Homo sapiens: one gene and its partners. The protein of the gene in region 5 interacts with the protein of the main gene of each other region in a pairwise test. Each region holds a gene or a part of one and is shown on either strand. Other genes may lie near its edges.

Region 1 (2,439 bases), on a different chromosome or scaffold from region 5:
CAGCTGGAGAGGGAGCTGCTGTCCCGTGTGGTGTGGCTGCCCATGCTGCGGGCTGAGCCGGGGCTGGGGGCCGCTGCTGCCCACCCCTCATCCTCCAGAGCATGGGAGGGGAGGGAGGGCAAGTCTGGGCCAGCCTTGCCTTCCTGCCTTGCCAGGGGAGGGGCCGCCACGGCGTACGGGGGAGCCTGGGTGATGGTGCCAGCGGCGCCCTCATCGCCATGGTAACCACCCTCCCCCTCCTCGGGGTCCCACTCCTCCTTGTCCATGATGCTGAGGACGTCACCCAGCATGGAGGGCCCCAGGTCGATGTGGAAGGACATGATGGACTCCGCATGCTTCAGCCCGTACGTGGCCTTGGGCACGACAGGCAGATCTGTCAGATCCCCAAAGGCCTGCTCATCGAGGAGGGGGTCAGGGGAATGTGGACCCGCGGCCCCATTCCGACGGGGCACTGCCTCCTCCGTGCCCGCCTCCTCATCGCCGCCCTCCCCGTCATTGGCCTTCTTCACGGGGCTGGATGACAGGCTCTTGGGCAGCTTACTGGTGCCCTTCTCCGCGGCCTCCTTCTCATTGAGCTGGGGCAGGGACATGGCATTCTTGACAAACAGGGCCGAGTCCCGCAGGGAGCCCAGCATGTCACGCTGCTCCCGCTCCCCCCTGGTCACCGACTGTGACCGCTTGCTGCCCCGGAACTTCCTGGACAGGAGACTGCGTTTGGAAGATGAAGAAGAGGGCTGTTCGTCCAAGGACTCGCCGTCGGGCTCGCCAGCCTTGCTATTGAGGAAGGAGGTGTCCCCAAAGGCGTCTCCGGCCCGGCCAACGTGCATGGTGTGGCGGAAGTCGCCCAGCGGGGCGCTGATCATCTCGGCCGTGAGGTCCGCTCGGGAACGGCGCTTGGAGTGCACCGAGCTGGACACCAGTTGCTTGAGGATTGGCATCTTGCTGGATGGGCGGGGAGGTGGGCCCTCCCGAGGTAGCCGGCAGGTCTGGGGTCAGATCTGAAGTCCAAGTCCAGTGGGCAGAGGGGGACGCAATGAGGAGATCATAAGGCTGCAAGCAGAGAATGAGAGGCAAAGGATTAACGCGGGCTGGCCACACGGCACAAAAGCCTCTTTGCCAGGGGACTGTCATTTAAACCCCAGCGCTCCTACCAAAGTTAAATGCTGTGAAATAAGCCAGCAATCCATGGTATAACCCTGCCTGTTTCTTCATCCGCAGGCATTCAGAGTAGAGGAGTGATTTTGCAAATCTGGTTAGAGTTCCAGTAGCCTCGGACACACTTTCCCTGAAACTTGAGAGAGACAGAACCTTTCTTGCAGAAGACAATGCCTCCCCTGCCCCTGCAAGCCAGGATGCTGCCAGAGTAAACATGACCACATTTAAGGACGCGAAGGTAAATCCAGCAATTCCAGGCAGCAAGCCAGGGAAGAGATGGAGTCTATGAGTTGGCTCCTATGAACAGTCAGCCTGGAGATGTGCTGTAAGTTCTTCCTGCTGTCTAACCTCGATCCCTGTGGAGTTAGTGGACACCCCACCCTGAGTCCTGGTCCTCAGAGAGAGAAGGGAAAGGACAGGACGGGCTCAGGGAGACAGAGGCTGACCAGCTCCTCCCCCTGCGTGGGCGGCACAGTCCTCTTTCTGAATCAGAACTGGGGTGGGGCTGCTGGGACCCACAGAACCAGCTCCCCAGCCTTTCAGCCTTCGCTTGGTATCCCATAAATGAGGATCCCGCCTGTGACGTCTCCACTGTGGAGCCCCAGGCTCTTTGCTGAGGGTCCACCTTCTGGTGTCTCGGGGAGATCAAGATTGGGCAACTTCCAGTTTCTTTCATCATTAGGGGAGTGGGAGGCAGGGACTGGACCCTAAATGACTTCGTCCCCCCAGGATCTGCAGACTGATTCCTAGGTGATTCACCAGAAATCCAAAAAACAGCAGAGGTAGAGCCCAGGAGCCTGGAGGCACCACTCTCACAGCTCCTGACAAGGGCCAAGTTGAAGTTCAGCATTGGGGCCAAACCAGCCCCTCTCTTCCCTAGAGGGGCTTGCCCCAAATACTAAGCCCAGCAGAGCTGGGCAGGTTGGGGAGAGATGGGTGCAGGGATTTAACAAAGTATGGTGGGTGAGAGGTGATGCTTGGACACCAGGTACCTGCCTGCCTCCCAGTCCAGCCAGCAGCACAGTTCTGAGAGGCACCCCCAGTCCAGACCCACTCTTCCCACTGCAAAACTCAGATGCTGGGTGCTTCCTCCGCATGCCTGCCGCTGCGTCACACAAGCCCACCACACCCCACCTGGCCCCTGACATCAGCCTGACAGGTCTCCCTGTTGGTCTCCCTCCTGTCCATCCTTCACCTCTTGGCTAAAACAAAACCCATCCACATGACGCCCTACCCAGTGCAGACCCCTTGATCCAATGACTAGTCCCCACCTCGCTCCTCAGT
Region 2 (3,500 bases), on a different chromosome or scaffold from region 5:
AATCCAGGGATTCAAAATATTATTTTAACATGAAATGTCTAGGGTTTCTGAAATGCAGAATTAAGGGGATGACTTATATAAGTAATTTAGATAAATGTGTGCATGTTCTTTTTATGCCAATTCAAATTCTTACGCTAAATTATGAAGATGATTTTTATTACTTTATTATTTCCCACAAAAGTCCAAAGAAGAGCACAATGAAAATATTCAACTCCAATTTTTAATTCATGAAAAAAAGTGATTTAACATTTGTGTTCTAGAATCCTTTAAAAAATATAGTAACATTTAATGTATGAAAGCTTTGTCAATATGTTATTAGGTTAAATAACCCTAAGTATATATTATATTTTAAAATAAAATCTACGTTAGCATAAGACAAATCCAATATCTATCTTGGTTAAAAACTAAACATCCTACATCTGTTTCTTCAATCTGAAATCATTATGTATATCTAATAAATGGTATATCATTCATTTATTTTTCAGGTAAGGTAAACATTATTATTTGTCAGGAAAGGCTTTAATAAGTGCCTTGTTTTTATATCAATAAAAAGTATAAACAATAAGGTAGAAAATATTTTTAGATGGAGTAGTTCACTCCAGATGTTACCAAGGTAACTAAATTCAACAGCGTTACATATTTCATTCCTGAGTAAATCAGTATGTTTTAAGAAAAACAAATACATGATTTACTCATTTGTATCAAATATACATACTCACATATTTTGCAATTTAAATGGTAAAAAACAATAATGTCTCACAACACTGTCCTATAAATCCAAATTTAAAACAAAGTTTTTGATGTCTTTATTTTAAAAATACCATATAGAACAGTAAGCAGATATTAAACTGAGGACAAATTAAGAATTTTCTATTGCTGAGTTTCATGTAATCATGTTAACCATTTTTATTCTCTTTCCCTCTCTCCCTAAAAGATACTTTTTAAGAATTTAAAATCGCGGATCTCAGACTCCTGTAACCAATTCATATCAGGTCATCACTTTAAAGGGGTAATCTGCTTCCTTACCCAACATAGTTTGGTCCATCCTGAGTAGCTGCTACACAGAAGGTGCAGTATTTAGGTCTGTGGGTATGGCCTTCAGGTTCACTGGGCCAAGGCGGTGGTTCTTCTCTCAAGGTTTCAGCCTGGGTACCATAGCATTTGAACCAAAGACTCTGTATATGAGTCCCAAGGAAAACAGCACCTGGAGCTTTGGAAAATAAGAGTGCCCAGGGTACCTAGCAACAGAGGAGAATGTGGAATGTGATGACAAGGAAGTGTGGAATCTAGTGACATCAGGAGGGCAGTTGGACGTCGGGAGTTAACTTGTTCTGTGGCTACTTTTGATGGGATGGATTTAGTGTTGGAGAATTATTGTGCTATCTCTGCGAGCACAGATGAGACTCCTTCTTGTCTAGAAGGTCTAGTAACACAGTAAATGGCAGATTATTCATTTTATTGTTTCTCTTTTGCTACTCCCCATTCCCTCCATGAATTAGTAGAGACCCTAGAAATACTGTTAAGTTATCCCACCAGCATTTTGTAGAAAAGTGGTTTCATCAGCATCATATTCAACAATTAGCTCTCTCTGTATGAAGAGAATTGGCCTAAAATATTATGTTAATGTATATGTGTACCTGTGTGTGTATTTAAGTGTGTGTGTGTATATGTAATCTCCCAAAGTACCTGACCTACTTTCTTATTCAGTTACTTTCAGTAGCTCAGCATCATGTCCTTTAGGCCAAGTGCCTTAGGCAAAATAAACAGGAAAAAAAAAAAAAATATATATATATATATATATAAAATCCTCATTTTAACATTAGTACTTGGAAATTTAGTCCCAAAATTCAGGTCAGATGCTCACAGGGTCCACAAAGATTTTATTGTTTTCCCCAAATTCACCACAATTTTCCTCCTCTAGTCCTTTGATGCCCCCCTTAGAAAACTTCTCTTTCATATCTTACCGTAAAACTAAGTATTAGGTCCAAAATATAGATGTAAATAGCCTTGCTGAAAAGATTAGTACCTTCATATCCAAAAAAGAAAAAAAATTAAAAATTCCTTTGAAATCTAATTGCAAAATAGTTTAAGTGCAACTCTCCTTTACCCCTTGTGGTCTCTGCTCTGTCTTTTCCCAGGCTCAAAACAAAACAAACAACAACAACAACAACAAAGGAAGCTTATCTATCACTAGGCCATACCTTAAATCTTACACCATAACTGCCTTTACTCTGCAACACAAAGCAGGTAATGTAGGCTGAATGAATCCTTGGTAGCACTTTCCAGCACAGTATACTGGAATACTATACTGGAATAATATACATAGTATATTTCGAATAATAGATGTGTATTAGTAGTTCTCAAACTTTAATTGCTTTGGAATTTCCTGGGGGAGATGATTAAAAATATGTATCTGTAGGATCCATGTGGGCACTAAAACCTCTAACACAATAAAGGCTAGAAATCTTGGTTTAATTTATTTTGGTTGAGGTCAGGGAATCTAGAAGCATTTCTCATATAAGTGCTTAGGAGCCATATGTGAGAAATTAATGTAGATGATATCCAACAACTACCCAGTAGAATACGCAATTAAAGGAGGCAACTGTGGATAGCAACAGAACTAAAGATGACTAACAGCCCTCAATTCTGGGTTCAGTAAGGCTGAATCTGAGGATATTTTAATCTCATTTTATAAAAATCTGGAAAAATTTCAGAAAAAGAAGCCAAAAGCCAAATATTCTTTCCCTTTATCAAAACTAATAAACAAAAATACTTACTGCCAGAATGGTCCCATTTTTTAAAAAGACTCATGAAAGGATATGATCTTGCCCAAAGAATTAAAGGTAAATGTGTAACTAAGGAGCTATAAACCTTATCTGGGGGAAAAGGATAAACTTAATTACCTTGGTTAACAAACCCCTGGAAGAAAAGGCCTTTACCTGGGTCAAGTGTATGTTTGGAAAATCAAGAATCTTTACTCCCCTTCTAAAGTAGAGCTGCCTATCATATAAGCATTCACATGTGCTGAAGTCACTATCAGTTTTGCTCACATAGCAGGTAAAGAGTATCACCCTGGGAAGAATTGTCAAAACCATCAAAGTGTGTCCTCTGGGTCCTGCATGTTCTCTTTCCCCTCTTGATCACTAATTCTCCAGCTATTTGTGTGCACACTGGCTCTATGTATGTCATTTTACTGAGTAATGGATTGACAGATTGATTGATTGATTATCCTTTATCTGAAATTCCCTCACAGAAAAATGTTACTTCAACTAGGCAGTTGTAATTTAAACCTTTTATCTCTAATTGCAGAATGAAAGGCTTTTTCTCTTGGTATTTTCAGCCATTAGCAAGCAGGTGAAGTGTATTGTGTTTTGGGAGTTTGTGCGGAGAGAGAAACCCTGTGATCATACTAGACCTGTTAAGTACCCATGTTTTTAAAGTAACTTAGAGGTGAATGATTAGAATGTATACTCCTTTAGGTATTCTCCTAAACTCTCCTA
Region 3 (3,500 bases), on a different chromosome or scaffold from region 5:
ACTACAGGCATGTGGCATTGCATGTGGCTGAAAACATTTGTTAATGCTGACCTTTGCAAAATACTGCCAACAAACATGTAAATAAAATTTACAAATGAGTTTCAAACTTCTGAACCAAATTAATTCAATCTTTAATACCAACATTATTTATGAAGTACACAGAAAAAAACTCATTTTGTTTTCAATTTTTTTTTTTTTTTTGAGACAGAGTCACTCTTGTCACCCAGGCTGGAGTACAATGGCATGATCTCAGCTCACTGCAACCTCTGCCTCCCAGATTTAAGCAATTCTCCTGCCTCAGCCTCCCAAGTAGCTGGGATTACAGGTGCCTACCATCACACCTGGCTAATTTTTTGTATTTTTAGTAAAGGGTTTTACCAAGTTGGCCAGGCTGGTCTCGAACTCCTGACCTCACGTGATCTGCCTACCTCAGCCTCCCAAAGTGCTGGGATTACAGGTGTGAGCCACCATTCCCAGCCTAAACTTTTTTTATTAAAAATTTTAGGGCCAGGCATGGTGGTTCATGCCTGTAATCCCAGCACTTTGGAAGGCCAAGGCGGGCAGATTGCTCGAGTCTGTGAGTTCAAGACCAACCTGGACAGCACAGCGAAACCCTATCTCTACAAAAAATACAAGAACTAGCCAGGTGTGGTGGTGTATGCCTGTAGTCCCAGCTACTTGGGAGGCTGAGGTGGGAGGATCATGTGAACCTCGGAGGCAGAGGCTGCAGTGAGCCAAGACTGTGACACTGTACTCCAGCCTAGGCAACATAGTGAGACCCCATCTCAAATAAAAAAAAAATTTAATATGTCCACACTTTTTTGTTTTTTATTTAAAAAATTTTTTTAGAGATAATGTCTTCATATGTCACCCAGTTTGGGGTGCAGTGACACAATCATAGCTTACCGCAGCCTCAAACTCCTGGGCTCAAGTGATCTTCCTGCCTCAGCCTCCTGAGCAGATCAAGATATAAACAGGTAAAAATTGATAAATCTTAACTCTTATTCTTATCTGTATCTTTCCCTATCAGTAATCCCTTCTAGTTTCCGCTGTATCCTTCCAGTGTTTATGCAAACACTAGACAAGCAAGCATAAACATACACACTCTCTCTCTTAATTTCTACATTTTAATATAAGAAGTCTGTGCTTACTTTTTTTTCTGAGACAGAGTTTTGTTCTTGTTGCCCAGGCTGGAGTGTATTGGCGCGATCTTGGCTCACCACAACCTCCACCTCTTGGGTTCAAGCAATTCTCCTGCCTCAGCCTCCCGAGTAGCTAGGATTACAGGCATGTGCCACCACGCCCGGCTAATTTTGTATTTTTAGTAAAGATGGGGTTTCTCCATGTTGGTCAGGCTGGTCTTGAACTCCTGACCTCAGATGATCCACTGGCCTCGGCCTCCCAAAGTGTTGGGATTACAGATGTGAGCCACCGTGCCCAGCCTTTTTCTTTTTTGAGACAGAATCTTGCTCTGTCGCCCAGGCTGGAGTGCAGTGGCATGATCCTGGCTCCACTGCAACCTTCGCCTCCTGGGTTCAACCAATTCTCATGCCTCAGCCTCCCAAGAAGCTGGGATTACAGGCGCACACCACCATTCCTGGCTAATTTTTGTATTTTTGGTAGAGATGGGGTTTCATCATGTTAGCCAGGCTGGTCTCGAGCTCCCAGCCTCAAGCAATCCACCTGTCTCAGCCTCCCAAAGTGCTGGCATTACAGGTGTGAGCCACCGTGCCTGGCCTTACACTTAGATGTTTAACTAAATAAAAATCTAAGTTATGAAAGTACACATAAACTGATGTGGTGGCTCACACCTGTAATCCCAGCACTTTGGGAGGCCTAGGGAGGAGGATTGCTTGAGCAAGGGTTTGAGACCCTGTCTCTACAAATTATTTTTAAAATTAGCTGGGTGTGGTGGAGCACTCCTGTGGTCCCAGCTACCCAGGAGGGTGAGGCAGGAGGAATCCCTGAGCCCAGGAGATCAAGGCTTTGGTGAGCTATGATCATGCCACTGCACTCTAGTCTGGGTGACAAGCAAGACCCTGTTTAAAAAAAAAAAAAAAAAAAGTAACACATACATACCTGTTCACGATTAAAAAAAAAAGGAAAATATCCTAGAGAAGGATTCAGAAAAATGGTAGGCTCTCTTATGCTACCACACTACTTAAATCCTTTATTCTCCCCAAGGACAGGCCTGTAGAGACACTTTGCTGTGTACTTCCAGATCTTTCTGTATTCATACATGCATGTGTGTGCAAGCAAACACATGTACATGTGTATGCATATAAAGATAAACATGAATATTTTTATTTGCTTACACAAATGGGATCATACCCTATATAAATTTAGATTTAGTTTTTTAATCTAATATTATCTGCCATGTTTATTTTCACAGATGTATCACATTCCTTATATTAACAAATAAGCATTTTTATTGTACAGGTAAGGAAACAGGATAGTAAAAGTAAGCCTTTATAGAAACTATTCACAAACCTACGTATATTTAGTCCTAACTATTCAGTTTGGATATTATAATTCACTACATCAATTTCTGCTTGCATGACCAAGAGAACAGGAGAGAAGAATCTCTCTACCCTACTTCTCAGAGAATTTGAGGCTTCAGATATGCTGCAGGATGCTCCTGATGGATGGGTTTTTAAGTTTTGTTGGTACCCTGAACTATAGGTCCTGAGCTATGAGAGATACACAGACAATGAAACACTGTATCACTTCTCTCCAGGCAGAGCATCTAAGGAGAATATGGAAAAACAAGTCTTAGGTGAACATTTGCAGTGAGCTCTGGTAACTCATTCCACATGCTAGAAGGGATAAACTGGACAATGCTGCCTGTGAGAAAAACACCAACATCCGGGATGTTTCATTCCGTAAATCCTGGGACAACTACAAGAATAATAAAAGCTGAAAACCTTTCCAGATACTTATTTAAAATGATTCATCAGTTTTTAGACATAGTTATTCCCATTTTAACATCTCGAGGCATCTTAAAATTAATGGTGTCTGACAGGTGGCACTTGAGACTTACTTGTCTTTGCCTTAAATAATTTATTTTCTTATGCTTTCCTTTTCATATATGCCCAAGAGGGAATGTGATATAATTTATATCCAGCTAAGATTAAAAGATATTTCAGTAAGTGTAAAATTTTAATCCTCTGATAAAAAAAGTATTGTCATAGTTTAACTGGCAGCAGTTTTTCTCTCCAGTGGCATCTTGGTGTCTCAGATTCAAAGAAACTTTTCTGTAGCAATTAAGCCTATTTAGCATTATGATGCAGTGATATATTTTTACAGAGAATTCCCATTAACCAAATTCAGGAATATGTCTTTCTACCTTCAAAGAACACCTACTGTGCTCCTTAATGTGGGTTTAATGTAGATGAATCGTGATCTCTTTTGCACATGCGTGATTTCTTTCAGTACAGTCTTAACACAGCCCAACTACTTCTAATGGGTAAGAGTTCTCCCTGCTTATAATCAATGAAATG
Region 4 (3,500 bases), on a different chromosome or scaffold from region 5:
AGGAATTCATCTTGGTGTGGCAGAAAGAAAGAAGGGGAAAAGGGTGCATGCAGATACAGATAAAAGGGTAGGGGGCAGTGAAAATCAGAGAGATTTCCAGTCTGACGTCTATGTTCTTTATAGAGTGGGAGATGTTAATGAGCTAAGAGTGAAGTGGAAGGCAAGAGATTTCAGGCGATAGACTGCTGAGATAGCTGCTATAAGGAATGAGAGACTGTTTAGGTGCATGAGTAAAGATAACCAGACAGTGTCAAGACTTGGCTGAGGCTGAGTCCCTGAGGCTGTGGGATATCAGTAAGTTCAGTTAGTGAGATCTGCTCCACCACCTCTTAGCCCTCCAAAGGTAAGAGTTGAGGTGCTAAGATTGGAGTTTGCTGGGCAAGAGATGGATAAAGATAAAAAAGCAACAGAGGGTTTCAGCAGTGGGCTATATCTTCCAGCCGGAATAAAGAACGGATAAAGCTAGTGGTAGAATAGGGAACATTAGGCCACTTCAGGGACCTGAAGTCTGAGCAGGTACAGTGGAGAAAAGTAATAAAAGTGTTAATTAGATAGAACATTGCAGGCAGAGTGGTTGAGAAATAGTATTCTCTAATAGTTAAGTTCTCAGAACGTGTTGAAGGCCAAGACTAGCCTCCTGAATCTGCCAGCCCCACGGATGTAATTCCATAGAACTTGAATGTTAGTAACATAGCAGTGACTATACATATATATATATATATATATATATATATATGTATGTATATTTTGATTCCTGAGTTAATAAACTAATGAAAAATTCATCACCATCAAATCATTTTTAAATAGAAGCTTAAGAGTGTGTGTGCATGTGTGTATGTATGTACATGTGTGTATGTATGCACATAACACACGTGAAGAGTAGCCTATTGGAAAAAGTACTTCATTGTAAATCTATTCTACAAATTGTGCCCTCATTTGATGGTGAAATTCTTACCGAGCAGGACAAGATCACGCACTCCTGGAAAACAACTATAATCTCTCACTTGTTACACAGGTTATTAGTTCACCCTTATGACCTGTTTTGATTACCAAAGGTGAAAGTCAGAATAAGATAATGCTTTTTGAGACCTAGAACCACAAATTCCAGTTTTAATTTTCTTCCTCCATCACTTCTGCTGCAACTTAGATTCAGGATCTTAGAAATGGAAGAGACCTCAGAAATTGCCTCGTCTGGTGTGACTTTATGGAGGACCAGAGTGACAAGGCAGCTTTCCTAACATCACACCGGCAGTTAGATGTAGAATTAGACAGGCTCTCCAACACTTCTTTCCATCACACTTTGCCACACCCTTAAGTACTGATGTACCAGAAGTACGGCCTACCCTTTATCCTCTTCCTGAACCTAAAAATGCCTTCAATTTAAAGTCAAGACTCATGAAATAAGGAGTCCTAGGTCTCCATGTATTTAGGCATCAGCAACTGTTCTGGCATCTAACAAGCACAAAGGGTCATGCAGCAAGGGCCAGACAGTGATGCTCCTGCTGTGGGACCTGAGCAGAAGCCTCTTTCTCTAGGTGGCGGGCAGCCTTGTCCCTCCCCACATCTCTGGCTACACTTCCTGCAATAAGTTCTTACCCACACAGCATCACCGTGCTATTTGGTAGCCCCAGAAGTGATTTGTGCTGGGGGTTTCCAGGCTTAGTGCCAGACACCTCTTGTCACCCTCATGGTGTGACAACACAGAACCCCCAGACTGTTTCTCTCCACTTATTCTGGCCACACCCTAGACAGATACAGCAAGAAGTTCATTTCAGGGTGTGGAAAAGCAGGCAGTGGGGTTGGGGCAGCTGTACAGTGATCTAAAGAAGGAGGCTCTAACACAAGTAGACACCCATTGCAAGCCCAACCCTGGAAATCCTTTACTGCCTCTCAAACTTTAGGAAGCCAGCAAGATACCAGTTGCAGCTTCAAGGCAGCCTTGAGGCAACCTTGTCACCAAACTTAGTTCATGGCAAAACATGGAAACAAATGTTGTTTGGGCCTTGCTCTTCCCAGGCATGTCTCCATGCTGTCAAGGTCCTTGTCCCATCTTGGGCTGCTTTCCCCTCCTCCTCCTTAACCACAGCATCAGGTTCATTGTTGCCCCACAAGTCATTTGCTGCTATTAATAGCTCAAGTTCATGAATAATTTACTGCTTCAAATATAAATTATGGGGATTTAAGGTTATCCCCTATAATAATATCACTCTGACTCACTTGCATTCCGATACGCTTCCTTGCAATGGAGACAGAGTGGTGGTGCTAAGTAGCATGCCAGGAATGTCACACAGGCCTGATCACACCCATGACCATGCAGACTATGTGTATGTCATTCCCAATGAGTGTTACTGAGAAGAAAAGGCTGAGGACTTCCTTCCAGAAAACAAGAAGTCAGACCTTTAATTCCAGAATTGCATGAAATCCAATCATCAGTTAGAAAAATTTCAACAAAACAAAAACTGGCATCATCTCTGTCTTTCAGGGGCTAATAATGTAAAGAAATGGAAAGTTAAATCCAGTGATAGATACGCACGAGACCATAGGCTTTCCACCATCATATCCCTTCCTTTGTAGACTAATTCTTCCATGAATCAAATGCTTGGGTCACGCAGAATATTTGCAGCCCCCAAATGTAGCAGAAGCTGTAGCAGCAGCATTACCGTGAAACTAAGATTATTTAGTCCTTCCTGTGTGCAAGGCATTTTATAAGAGTAGGCTCATTCCTGCCTACCCATCATTCTTTAAGGTGGATGCTATGATTATCCCCATTTTATAGATGAGGAAACCAAAGTTCAGAATATTTAAGTAATTTGCCCAGGTTCCCAAAGTTAGTAAGTTACAGAACACAGGTAGCAGCCTTCCAAAGCCCATATTTGTAACCACTGCCCTGTTCTGCTCCCCAAAAGAAAAAGGTGACTGGGAATGAAATACACCTTGAATGTTTGAACGGGGTTCCCTTAGCCTGGAAGACCTTTCCTATACTTCTCCACTTATTAAAACCCTACACTTCCTCCAAGGCTTTGTCTCTACTCTTCTTTCTGTAAGACACCTTTCCCATCACAACTAATGCACCGTGCTCCTCCAGCAATCTGTTGAAATCTCTACTGCATCCCTTACGGTCTACCATGCATTCTATTAAGCACTTGCCTGACTGCATGTGAAATTCCCTCCTTCTTCCTTTGGGGTTATGTACAAAATCTGCAGATGGGACAGGGCTATCCTAGAGACCAAAACCAAAATTTCTCTTTCATTTAGCAGGCCACATCTCAGGCCTTGGTCTACCCTCAAACCGTAGCACAGTATTTTGCACAAAGCAGGTGCTTAGTATGTGTTTGCAGAGATATAGAGGAGTTTGGCAGAGGACGTTCGGCCTTTGGAGTAAAGAAGACAAGGCTGAAACTTCAGTACCCTCTCAATTTAGCTGTGTAACTTTGGACAAGTTATTTAATCTCCACAAGCCTCTGTTTCCTCCTCTAAAAATGGAGGCAATATGTACATCA
Region 5 (3,500 bases):
CTAGGTAAAATTTCCAATTTACCTTTTCCTGTTCTAAATAACTCCCACAAACTATTCATGAATCCTAAAAATACATTTACCAATTATATTATATCTGGAACAATACATTCAAAGTGAAAATGCTAAGTAATTTGAAATGTATAATCAAATGTCTTTCCATACATTCAGAAACAAGCAGACTGTCTTCTATTATGCACGTGTTGTATTTTATAATGTATTATGTTACCAAATAGAACAGACCTTTACGAATTGGTCACGTAGCAGCTTCATCTCTTTCAGCCTCTCTCTCCTAACACTTCTATATTGTTGCCACTTCTTCTGTTGTTCTTGAAATATTCTCTAGAATCCCAAAACAAAATAGTGATAAAAATTGGGTAAATTTTAATACTTACAAAACATAATTCTGCATTAGCTTTAAAGGAATACTGTTTAAATCAATACCTCTGAACACTTTCTTTTAGACAACATTTAGGACCAATTTTAAACAATTGTGTTCACCAATAACATGCTAAAATGATGTATTAACCTTTTTTATCAGTCATTAAGTAAAGAATTTTCTTACTTTTACACATTCAACACATATGTCCTAATTCTTGATTTCCAATGAAGAGTATTTGATGAACCTTCCTATAATTTGTTGACCACAGATAGGTAAGATCTATACAGAAATTAACTAAGAAAAATTCTTTCTAAGATTTTAAGCATGTATTAAATCTCGGTCATTTCAATATGCACATAGATGAACCACCCAATAATGATTGCCTTTCTGCACCCTGACCTAATCTCCAACAACAGTGTTCTCCTCTCCTCTACGTGGCACTCACTCACACAGTCATCCCCTAGATTTTGTCATTCCCAATGACTTCAACACCTACGTAATATTAATAATAGCAATGATAAAGAGCAACCATGGGTCAGATCACATCCTGAAAAACTTAAATAAACCTGTTACACAGAAACCCTTTGATCCTCCAAACAACTCTGACGTAGGTACTCTTACCATGTCTCCTTTCGTAGATAAGATAATTTGCCCATGGTTTCCGAGCTAGCAATGGTCAAGCTGAGATAAATAATTTTTCCATGGTTTCCGAGCTAGCAATGGTCAAGCTAGAATCCCAAGCAGTGTGGATGCATAGTCCCAGCCCTTGACCACTGCACTCAGCTGTTTCTCCAACTTCCCAACATACAGCCACTACCTCCCTGCCATCGTAGGTCACTCACTTCAGTACTACAGCTCAGGAGTCTGTTGGGACCTGACACCCACTGAATGGAGCACTTTTTACTGCCCATTGCCCACTCCCGTGTGCTCAGATAACTCAGTCCCAGCTGAAATTCCACAGCCAGTCATCATATCCCCATCTCTGCATCTATTCCCTGCCCAACTCTCCCTCTATCAATCTGCTCGGCTACACCCCGACCCAGGAAATTCCAACCCTACAGCTGTGCTTGCACAAATATGCCAACTGGGCTTACTTTAACTTCTTCATCGTTATGATGCTGACTTCAGTTGGACCCCTAATGCTGCGTGGCAATTATATTCCCCTAGTCCATTAGTCCACTAACGGGCCCCCCTCTCTGGGCTCATGCGCTCTTCCTTCTTTGCTGGATTTCTGCATGAACTATTACTACCTGAGACACTGACATAACAGGTTATACATAAAGCTAAGCATGATACCAACAATTAGTTCTTCCTCTTCTCCCTCTTCTTCTTCTTCCTCTTTCTGCTCGTCTGTGATGTATTCTTCAAGGACATTTAGCAACTTCAGAGAATGTATATAATCACGTTTCTGCCTGTAACACATAATAAGTAACACGGTCATACGTCATAGAGAGATGAAAAATTAATCCTATTCAAACCCAAACTGACTTGACATAATTTATACTATAAAGTAGCAAGGGAGTAATAGCAGCTGAAATCTTCTTTTTGGAAAAAAGTGAAATGAGTTACTCTCATTTTGAAAGGATTCTTTTCTTCCTGACTACTAGAGCAGCTATCTTACATTCTTTACCTGCTGAAGACAAAGGAGGGTTTACTGCACTATAACTTTCCCAGAAACATTTTCTCTAAGAGCAGTTTACTTTCCATTTCCTCTTACTGAATAACATATGGGTTCTCATAAGTAGGTTCAAGAATATCATAGCCATTCATCCCATAAGATTTCCCAAAAGAAAAACTTCACTTAACTATTTCTCCACTTTGGCACACCAATGATTTTGTAAAAGAAATAGTGAAAACAATTTAACTAAAATAGATAACTTATTTACAACATAAGGTTATCCCTTTCTACATAATTGAGTATCGTTAAGGATCTACAGACTAAACATTGAGAACATTTATCTTATATGCAGCTACCATATTTCTAGAAATGGATAAACATTAATTTTACAAGAAGGCTATTTTTATCTGGAAGGCAAAAAGAGGTCATCTTCATTGGCTTCTAGGTAATATCTCTTAATTCTGTTAAACTGAGGTTATAAAACTAAAGAAACTTACCTACTTAGAGAACAATCAAGTAAAATATGTTGTTCACTAGAGACGCCAATATGTACAGGATAGTTTTTGAAATTATTTGCACCAACTAATACAAAGAAATGATATAAATATCATTATGCAAAAAAGCCAACAGTCATACCTTTTAAGTTGCTTTTTTCTCAAAGCATGTTTACTTTTGTTCTTTGTTTTGCTGCAAGTTTTATCCATTTTCATCCTTTTTCTTTTTGCAGTAAGATCCTCTTTAATGTCAGTTAGATAGTAAATGAAAATGGATTAAAAGTTAATGTTGAAAAGTAGTTTCTTTGCATATACTGACATCAATATGGGACTTTATGGTTCAGCAATTTCAGAAGGATATTTAAAATATAAAATGCAAAGATCATTTCAAAAAGCAAGATTTACTCACTTATTTTCTGTAAAACCTTTCAGGTATTAACATTCGCATTTCAATTCCAGTTGGTATAACTGAAAATCACTTAATTGACAGATGATGAAAAAAAGCAAATAATTAAAAGTCTCTATTTTTTAAATGTGCAGAAAGAGTTATAAGCACAGACTTTAATTTCTACATTTATAAAATGTCCTACAATTCAAAGGAGATGCTTCCATGAAATACTGCACAATTCATTACGTAAAGCACACAAAAAAGTATCTTATATAATAGAACCCTCAAAAGGGTAGAAATAACTTAATGCACAATAAGAAAAGCATTTTTAAGCAATCTAGTGATTGATGCTATTAACTGTATTTTAATAAAAGAAGCAATGGCCATGAGTATAAAAATTTAGGTTTAGGTAAAGAAATACATTCAAAAACACTTTTGAAATGTTTTCTTGGAGCTTTTTATGACATTTGTACCCATAGTGCTGTGTTTCAGAAAACTGTAATACTGCAAGGAATGCTTTCCTAAACATGATTTCACATCAGAGCTCTACCATCAATTGCTAAGAATAATTTTCAGCAATCATAAAAGATTTGTACCACAATGCAAATATTTTTTACATAC
Region 6 (4,002 bases), about 46 Mb from region 5:
CAGTCGATGAAAGTCAACATATATCCAAGAAGAATACTCTCAGGAAACTAGAAATAGAAGGAACTTCTGATAAAGCATATCTGCAAGTAAAATCTACAGTAAATCATGGTAAAATGTTGAATATTTTCCATTTCTTATCAGGAATAAGATGAGGGTGTCCACTATCACCAGTTCAATTCCACATTGTACTGGATGAGTCTGTCCAATGTCATAAAATGAATTAAGGAAATGAAGAGTAACATACTTTAAAAGGCAGACTGAAAAGTATTATTACTCACAGATGGCATGATTGTATATGTTGACAATCAAAAAGGACCTAGAGAGAAACTTTTGGAATTAATAAGCATATTTAGCAAGGTTTCTGGAGAGAAAAATCAATACATAAAATTATATCTCTATATACCAGCTCAAACAAAATATAAATTTTCAAAAAAGATACAATTTTCAATAGCATGAAACACCTAATTATTCCTAGTTTGACATAAGTTGCACAAGACTTCTTTGCAGACAATTGTGAAACTTTATTGAGAGAATTTTACTGGTGAAGTTTCCAACATAAAGACTGCATGTATGGTTTCAGCTTGTCTTCATTTAAACCGATGGTTGCCCTTCACCTATAAGATAAACATAATAGTTGAGAGTATTTTTTAGCAGAACTTTTTATGATGACACTACGGGTTGAAAAAAGGCATAGTTTTGGTTTTATGAAATGAACTATAACAAGGTAACCCTCTGGCTTATATCCAGTTAAACCGCTATAGAGACTTTGAAGGTAGGCTTTCAGGTATATTAACAATATTTTAAAATCCCACTCATTTTTCTAGTGTATAAGAAAGAGTTTGAGTTCGAAATGATTTGATCAAATGAACCTATTTAAAGAAAGTTTTAACTAGAAACTAAAAACTGCATGTAATTTTAGAAAAAAAAAATCCAACTAACCAAACATAAGCAAACATAAAACTTAGGAAACAAAAGAAATTTGAAATAATGTTTTGAATATAGGATAGCTCAAACAGTAATGACACATTTGAAAGTGCTTAAGTGGCATAAATAGAAAGGCTAGTATTATATTTGTTTTGTTTCTGTTATGGGAAAATGCTAAAATGTTTTTGATTAGTTTACTCTTTATATGGTTGTTTTAAGTAGGTTAACCATTTGTCTCTGTTTTCACCTGTGGTTCTAGTATAATTATCAATAATGCCTCTTTGCACAGTTAAAAATATTCCAGTTTGTCCAATAAATTATATCGTCACACTGGTTGCAAGCCATTATTATTATAGATGAAGTGTTAAAAAGAAATAGTAATGATTCTCACAATTTGGCAAAACGGGGATCAGAAGGAGAGGGAGAGGAGGAGAGAGAGAAAGAGAAGAGACTGAGGAATCTAGAAAAGCCAAATACAAATAAACAAACAATAGCTTTTTTTTTTGTTTCTAAATGATAAATACTTTTGATGGAAAATTCTGGCAAGTTTTAAAAGTTCATCCATGTTATGATGTTTAAATATTCATTTACTACTGTGGTATAGTAAATGATTTTATGTTTTGCTAGCATATCAAACATTGCATCAAATTTTGAAAATTGTTTAGAGCTCAAGAATGTATCCACTTTTAATTATATTACACATTCAATATCTGTCCTGTCTTGTTCCTATTTTTTATTGTGTATACTTGAGCTTTGCCCATTTTCTTCAACATTATGTAAACTAGGGGATCCTCTATTCATAGATATGTTGAAAATCTCTTTTATTTACTAGTTGAATTATTTCCCTTAAATAAAGACTTATACCTGTCTTTTATTAAGTATATTTTTCCTTCTCCCTTATGTTTATCTTGTGCCTTTTTCTTATTTTTTATATTGAATGCTCATATAATTTTATATTTTTATTTTTTAATAACATGTATTTAAAGCAATGATCTTCCTATGAGTATATGTTGAATAGGTTCCTGAACATAGCCTGAAAAATATTTTTAATCTAAATATTCTAATGGAATGGATCAGGAATGTAGAGCAAAAGCAGTAGACTAATGCAAGATAATTTCTTTCCTAAACACTAAGTGTTTATATTAAATTCAGAAGCTCATATAACTAATGCCTAGAAGTTTGGAAAAAACATGTGTAAAACGTACTTAAGTTGATTACTCAAATTTTAATATATTTGATTTTGACCCATTTTTATAAGAGCAAATATGGGTTTAGAAGATAAGGAATTTGCCCAAAGTCAGTGAAATTTTGTTAGAGCTTGGATTAGAGCCTACTTAATTGCCTCAGCATGTTTCATACAGTGAATATCTGTTACAAATTCATTAGGTATTTATTAAAAGCAGACCTTTATAAAAGTATCTGATATTACTAGCTGTTGGTTTAGGAACTGATACTAAAAAGTAAGAAAATACCTTCACATTTTATAATTGAATGTGGCTTTGACCCAATGTGGTAGGATCTATGATGGTGCTTGTTTATTAGTCAGGCTTTTGGGGACTGAACTATCTTTCAAAGAATCTTTATATATGAACTCTGTTAAATTATATTAGCAGTAGTGGTACCTCTATATTATAAAATATATAGTATTTTTGAAAACAGAAACCCCATAATTTGCATTTTTAATGAATAACTTACCTGCTTCTGGTATTTTAACAGGCTCCAGATTTGGCAGAAATTCTCCCTTGACATTAGGACCATCTCCACGTTCACCCCCAGTCTTTGACCGAGTCAGTTCCCAGAGATAGGCTGCCAGGCCTAGCACTTAAAAATAAAAAACATTACCAATTTAAGTTGTAAAACATAAAATATAAATAAAAGAATGATAATATTCACTCCCTCAATGTTATGAAATAAAAGCCTATAGGCTAGTGTGGTAATACACGCAATGCATAAGAATTTCAAGAACATTATTTCAGGACTCTTACCAGAAAAAGAAAACAAAATTTTCCAAATATTATCACCCTTTTCTTTTCCCACAACTGCCCCAGACAGATTAGTTGAACCCTCTGTAGGTATATGTTATTGTACTTATCATTTCAAATTAGTGATTCATTTGAGTCTGTCTAACTAGATTGTGAGCTCAAGGCTGAAATCATCTCTTTCATTAGTATTTACATCCCTAAAGCCTACATATTGCATGGCATGAGTCACTGTGAATAAGTGTTGAGTGAAAAAAAAGTATTTAAAAATACAGCCTATACTGATGAACGCTCTGCAAAACAACTGGTCCATTCTCTTAAAAAATACCAGTGTCATGAAAGACGAAGAAAGAGTGAAGAACTGGTCCAGATTAAAAAAGATTAAATAGGATTGACAACTATATGTAATGCATGATCCTGGAATCAGAAAAAAAACTATAAGGGAAATTATTAGGACAACTGGGGAAATTTGAATATAAGCTATATATTAAACAACTGCATTTTTCATTGTTGAATTCCCCAAATTTAATAAACATACAGGGGTTATCCAAGAGAATATGGCTATATAATAGAATAGTGGGTATGAAATCAATGTGGCAAAACTCTAAACATTAGTTAATCTAGGTGAAAAGCATATGAGTTGATTATAATAATCTTGCAACTTTTCTGTAAATTTTATATTTTTACAAAACATAAATTAAAAATAAAAAAGAATAAATGACAACTATGTTGGAGTTCAGGAAGACAAGAGTTATTTTTGACAACATTAACAGCAACTAGGATTGGACTTCAGACAAGACTGGGTGCATTCAGGGTGGTATGGCTGTAGATGGATTGGACTTCATGTATTTGTTTTCCTGCATTACAAAAACCTCCATTTTAAATGACATTATAAGGACAAACCACAAAACATGTGCCGTCCTTATATTTTACCATAGTGCTGTAAGGGGAATAAACATCAGCCATCCAGGAAATCAGAACTTTACACCATGGATAAGATTTAAATTACATTTAAAATATAATTTTATGAAGAATTAGCTGAATGGATTTGTAAGCGTATGACATATCTTATAGTCATGACACCCATAACCTATTGGGG
Region 7 (2,636 bases), on a different chromosome or scaffold from region 5:
TTTCCTCAGTTCCTGGACAAGCCTCGGAGGACCAGGCAGAACCCTCTGGCTAGCAGAAAAGCTCGCACCCCCGCACCCTTGCGGCGTCTGCTTCAGACCCTCCACGCAGGCGCCCGCTGGAGCGCCTGCTGGGGATGGCGTACCACCGACCCTTCAGGCTTTTTAAAAACGTAAGAATTTCTACTTTATTATCTCTATGAAAAAAAAAATGTAAAGAAGAGAGGTTAGATTTTATAGAAGCTCCAAAGTCTGCCATTTGCGAGGAGGGTTCACTTCCCACCCACCCAGCCCACGGAAGCTCTTAGGAGCAGCCTGAACGGCCCCGACTCAGCCTCACGCTCTCTGACTTCCCCGCTCGCCCCTGACCCCGACTTCACTTAGGGCGGTCGCGTAGATATGAACTCTACAGCAGCCACTCTGCTCAGCGCATGTGGGGATCTTACAATCTCGACCCCGACCTCCAGAAGACCAGACGTTCTGTCTTGGGGCCTCCCTCCCGGCCCTTTAGCCTCACCCAGTGCCCGGTCCTGACACACCCCAGCACTACCAGACGAGGAAGGGCAGACTCTCCACACCAGGCTCAGCCGCTTTCCTTCTTCTCACAGCTCTCCAAGAGCTCGGTCATGAAGGAGATATAGACGATGGCCAGGCGGAGGGTCTCGATCCGGGACAGCCTTTTCTCGTAAGCAAACGTGGGCACCTTCCTCCGCAGCTGGTCAAAGGCCTCGTTGAGGTTGAACATCCGCTTCCTTTCGCGGATGTTGGCGGCCTGGCGCTGGGCGTAGGTGATCACCCTTTTCCTCTTGGGGCGGCCTAATAGGGAGACACCTCTTCCGCGCTCCTCTTCCTCCTCCTCTTCTCCGTCCCCCTGGTCCACTTCGCACTCCTCTTCTTCTGGGTCCCCCTCTTCAAACCGCGCCATCCTCCTGGGTCTTCCCTCTCGGAGCGCAAGGGCTGGGTCCCCCAAGGAGACCCCGGGTGCGAAGTCGCAGAGGAGAGGGCGTCTCGGGGAGGCCAGGGACAGGTCTGCGACGAAGTCCAGCACCGTAGTGTCCACGCAGCTCTCCGGATAGGCCGCCATCGCTTCGGCTTGGCCCTGCCTCTCATCGGTTTTCCGCAGGGAGGGGCGAGGTTGCTGGTGGGGATTCTTAACAGCCTTGAATCTGATGGGGCACCATCACCGAAAGGCCAGGGAACATTAAATATTTATAACCAAGCTGATAACAGGATTAGTCGCACCGATAAGGAATGCTCTGACAACGTCCCTTCTCTCGAAGCTTATGGAAGATGACAAGCTTGAGCACGCATGGAAGACTCAAAGGGACAGGGCTCCAGTTCTGAGATCCTTTTCTCTGCGCCACCCGGGACAGTTCCTTGTTGGCAACAACCCCCAGCTCTTACCTGCTGTGCTTTTTGTGTCTGTCTTCACCCCTGCAGCCAACTAATGTTCTCCAGGCTCCTTATCTCGTGTAGTTCTTTAATTTCGTGTTGGATTTTCAAAGCGAGGATGTTTTCCACCGCGATGGCTTCTCCTTGACTTCAGGGTAGGAGTCTTGAATCTTGCCACCATCTGCCAATGGATGTGGAGCAAGTGCATGTGCTTTTAATGATGTCCTGAAGAGGGGCCCTGCCTGCCTGGCATCAAGGGGAGCTGTTTGTCTGGTATCCCAGTGCAGCGGCTGCTGAAAGGCAAGACCTTCAATTAGCTTAAGTAAGCATGGCAGGGGGACCGAGAGTGCATTCCCCAGAGTCGCTGTTGGAACCGGCTTTCTTTTCTTTCCAGGGCATCGCAAACAGCTCTCCTGCCACGTTACAAACCCTGACTTCTAAAGTCTGTTTGGATGCAATCAGCGTAACAATTGAGATACTTGACTTTCCTTTCCCTACCTTTACCTCCTACTCATATAAAATAGAGGATTTTATTCCAAGAGGAAAAGTTATGATGGCAATAAAATGAGAAATTTAAGCTCAGGATATTTTCTATGCTCGGGCTTTGCTGTATACTTTTCAGTGTGGGGGACAAAGCAAACTCTCCTCACAAACAAAACCACTTCAAGCTCTTTTCAGAAATGCGATTTGCCCTTGATAAGCCAAAGAGTCAATCAGCTCACCCTCTGCTGAGGAGTCTTCGGACTTTTAAATTGCGGATCGAGTATTTGTTCCCGAACAAAGAAAAAAACCTAACACTTCCATCTGGCGTATTTTCCTCATTGATTTGTATTGTCCTACAGTAAGACTTAAGTGCAGAAACAATGATTTATTGAAATATATTTAAGGGAGTTTTTGGCTATCGTTAGATCGTTATTTTTGAGAAAAGAAAGAGATTTTAAATTTGGCATAAGAAAAATAAGAGATTACTCATTTTATATTATCTCGAGTATCCCAAATATTTTAACAAAAAGGTTCTTTTTCTTTGTTTGCCAATAACTATATTTACTTAATTATTCAGTACTGTGTAAAGATTTATTTAAAAGACCCATTGTGTCAAAGTGACAGATTAGAAGATAATTTTAAAGGTAGATTGGAAGAAATAGCCTAAAAAGATGAATGTAGAAACATCCCGGTTCAAAAGAGAACTGCCCAGGACGTCAGTCCCTATTAAGGGGGTAAGTTGTGGTTATGATGGTTCACTCAGT

What was found.
Region 1: the proteins of FAM9B (region 5) and CDC42EP4 interact in binary tests that used the Homo sapiens proteins (3 or more experiments, as listed by UniProt).
Region 2: the proteins of FAM9B (region 5) and NOL4 interact in binary tests that used the Homo sapiens proteins (3 or more experiments, as listed by UniProt).
Region 3: the proteins of FAM9B (region 5) and RMND1 interact in binary tests that used the Homo sapiens proteins (3 or more experiments, as listed by UniProt).
Region 4: the proteins of FAM9B (region 5) and MAB21L3 interact in binary tests that used the Homo sapiens proteins (3 or more experiments, as listed by UniProt).
Region 6: the proteins of FAM9B (region 5) and PAGE3 interact in binary tests that used the Homo sapiens proteins (3 or more experiments, as listed by UniProt).
Region 7: the proteins of FAM9B (region 5) and FERD3L interact in binary tests that used the Homo sapiens proteins (3 or more experiments, as listed by UniProt).

What each region holds. Positions count from the first base shown.
Region 1 is NC_000017.11:73,285,563-73,288,001, forward strand, and holds part of CDC42EP4 (cdc42 effector protein 4), read right to left. Parts: intron 1,051-2,439; 5' UTR 939-1,050; coding exon 1-938. UniProt on the Homo sapiens protein: Probably involved in the organization of the actin cytoskeleton. May act downstream of CDC42 to induce actin filament assembly leading to cell shape changes. Induces pseudopodia formation, when overexpressed in fibroblasts.
Region 2 is NC_000018.10:34,022,414-34,025,913, forward strand, and holds part of NOL4 (nucleolar protein 4), read right to left. Parts: intron 1,239-3,500; coding exon of another isoform or gene 1,027-1,238; intron 1-1,026.
Region 3 is NC_000006.12:151,417,627-151,421,126, forward strand, and holds part of RMND1 (required for meiotic nuclear division protein 1 homolog), read right to left. Parts: intron 1-3,500. UniProt on the Homo sapiens protein: Required for mitochondrial translation, possibly by coordinating the assembly or maintenance of the mitochondrial ribosome.
Region 4 is NC_000001.11:116,114,399-116,117,898, reverse strand, and holds part of MAB21L3 (protein mab-21-like 3), read right to left. Parts: intron 1-3,500.
Region 5 is NC_000023.11:9,027,628-9,031,127, forward strand, and holds part of FAM9B (protein FAM9B), read right to left. Parts: intron 2,970-3,500; coding exon of another isoform or gene 2,941-2,969; exon of another isoform or gene 2,734-2,940; coding exon 2,634-2,733; intron 1,792-2,633; coding exon 1,680-1,791; intron 340-1,679; coding exon 241-339; intron 1-240. UniProt on the Homo sapiens protein: May play a role in meiosis.
Region 6 is NC_000023.11:55,257,915-55,261,916, forward strand, and holds the end of PAGE3 (P antigen family member 3), read right to left. Parts: intron 2,746-4,002; coding exon 2,620-2,745; intron 615-2,619; coding exon 592-614; 3' UTR 501-591; downstream 1-500.
Region 7 is NC_000007.14:19,144,282-19,146,917, forward strand, and holds FERD3L (fer3-like protein), read right to left. Parts: upstream 1,141-2,636; 5' UTR 1,082-1,140; coding exon 581-1,081; 3' UTR 501-580; downstream 1-500. UniProt on the Homo sapiens protein: Transcription factor that binds to the E-box and functions as inhibitor of transcription. DNA binding requires dimerization with an E protein. Inhibits transcription activation by ASCL1/MASH1 by sequestering E proteins.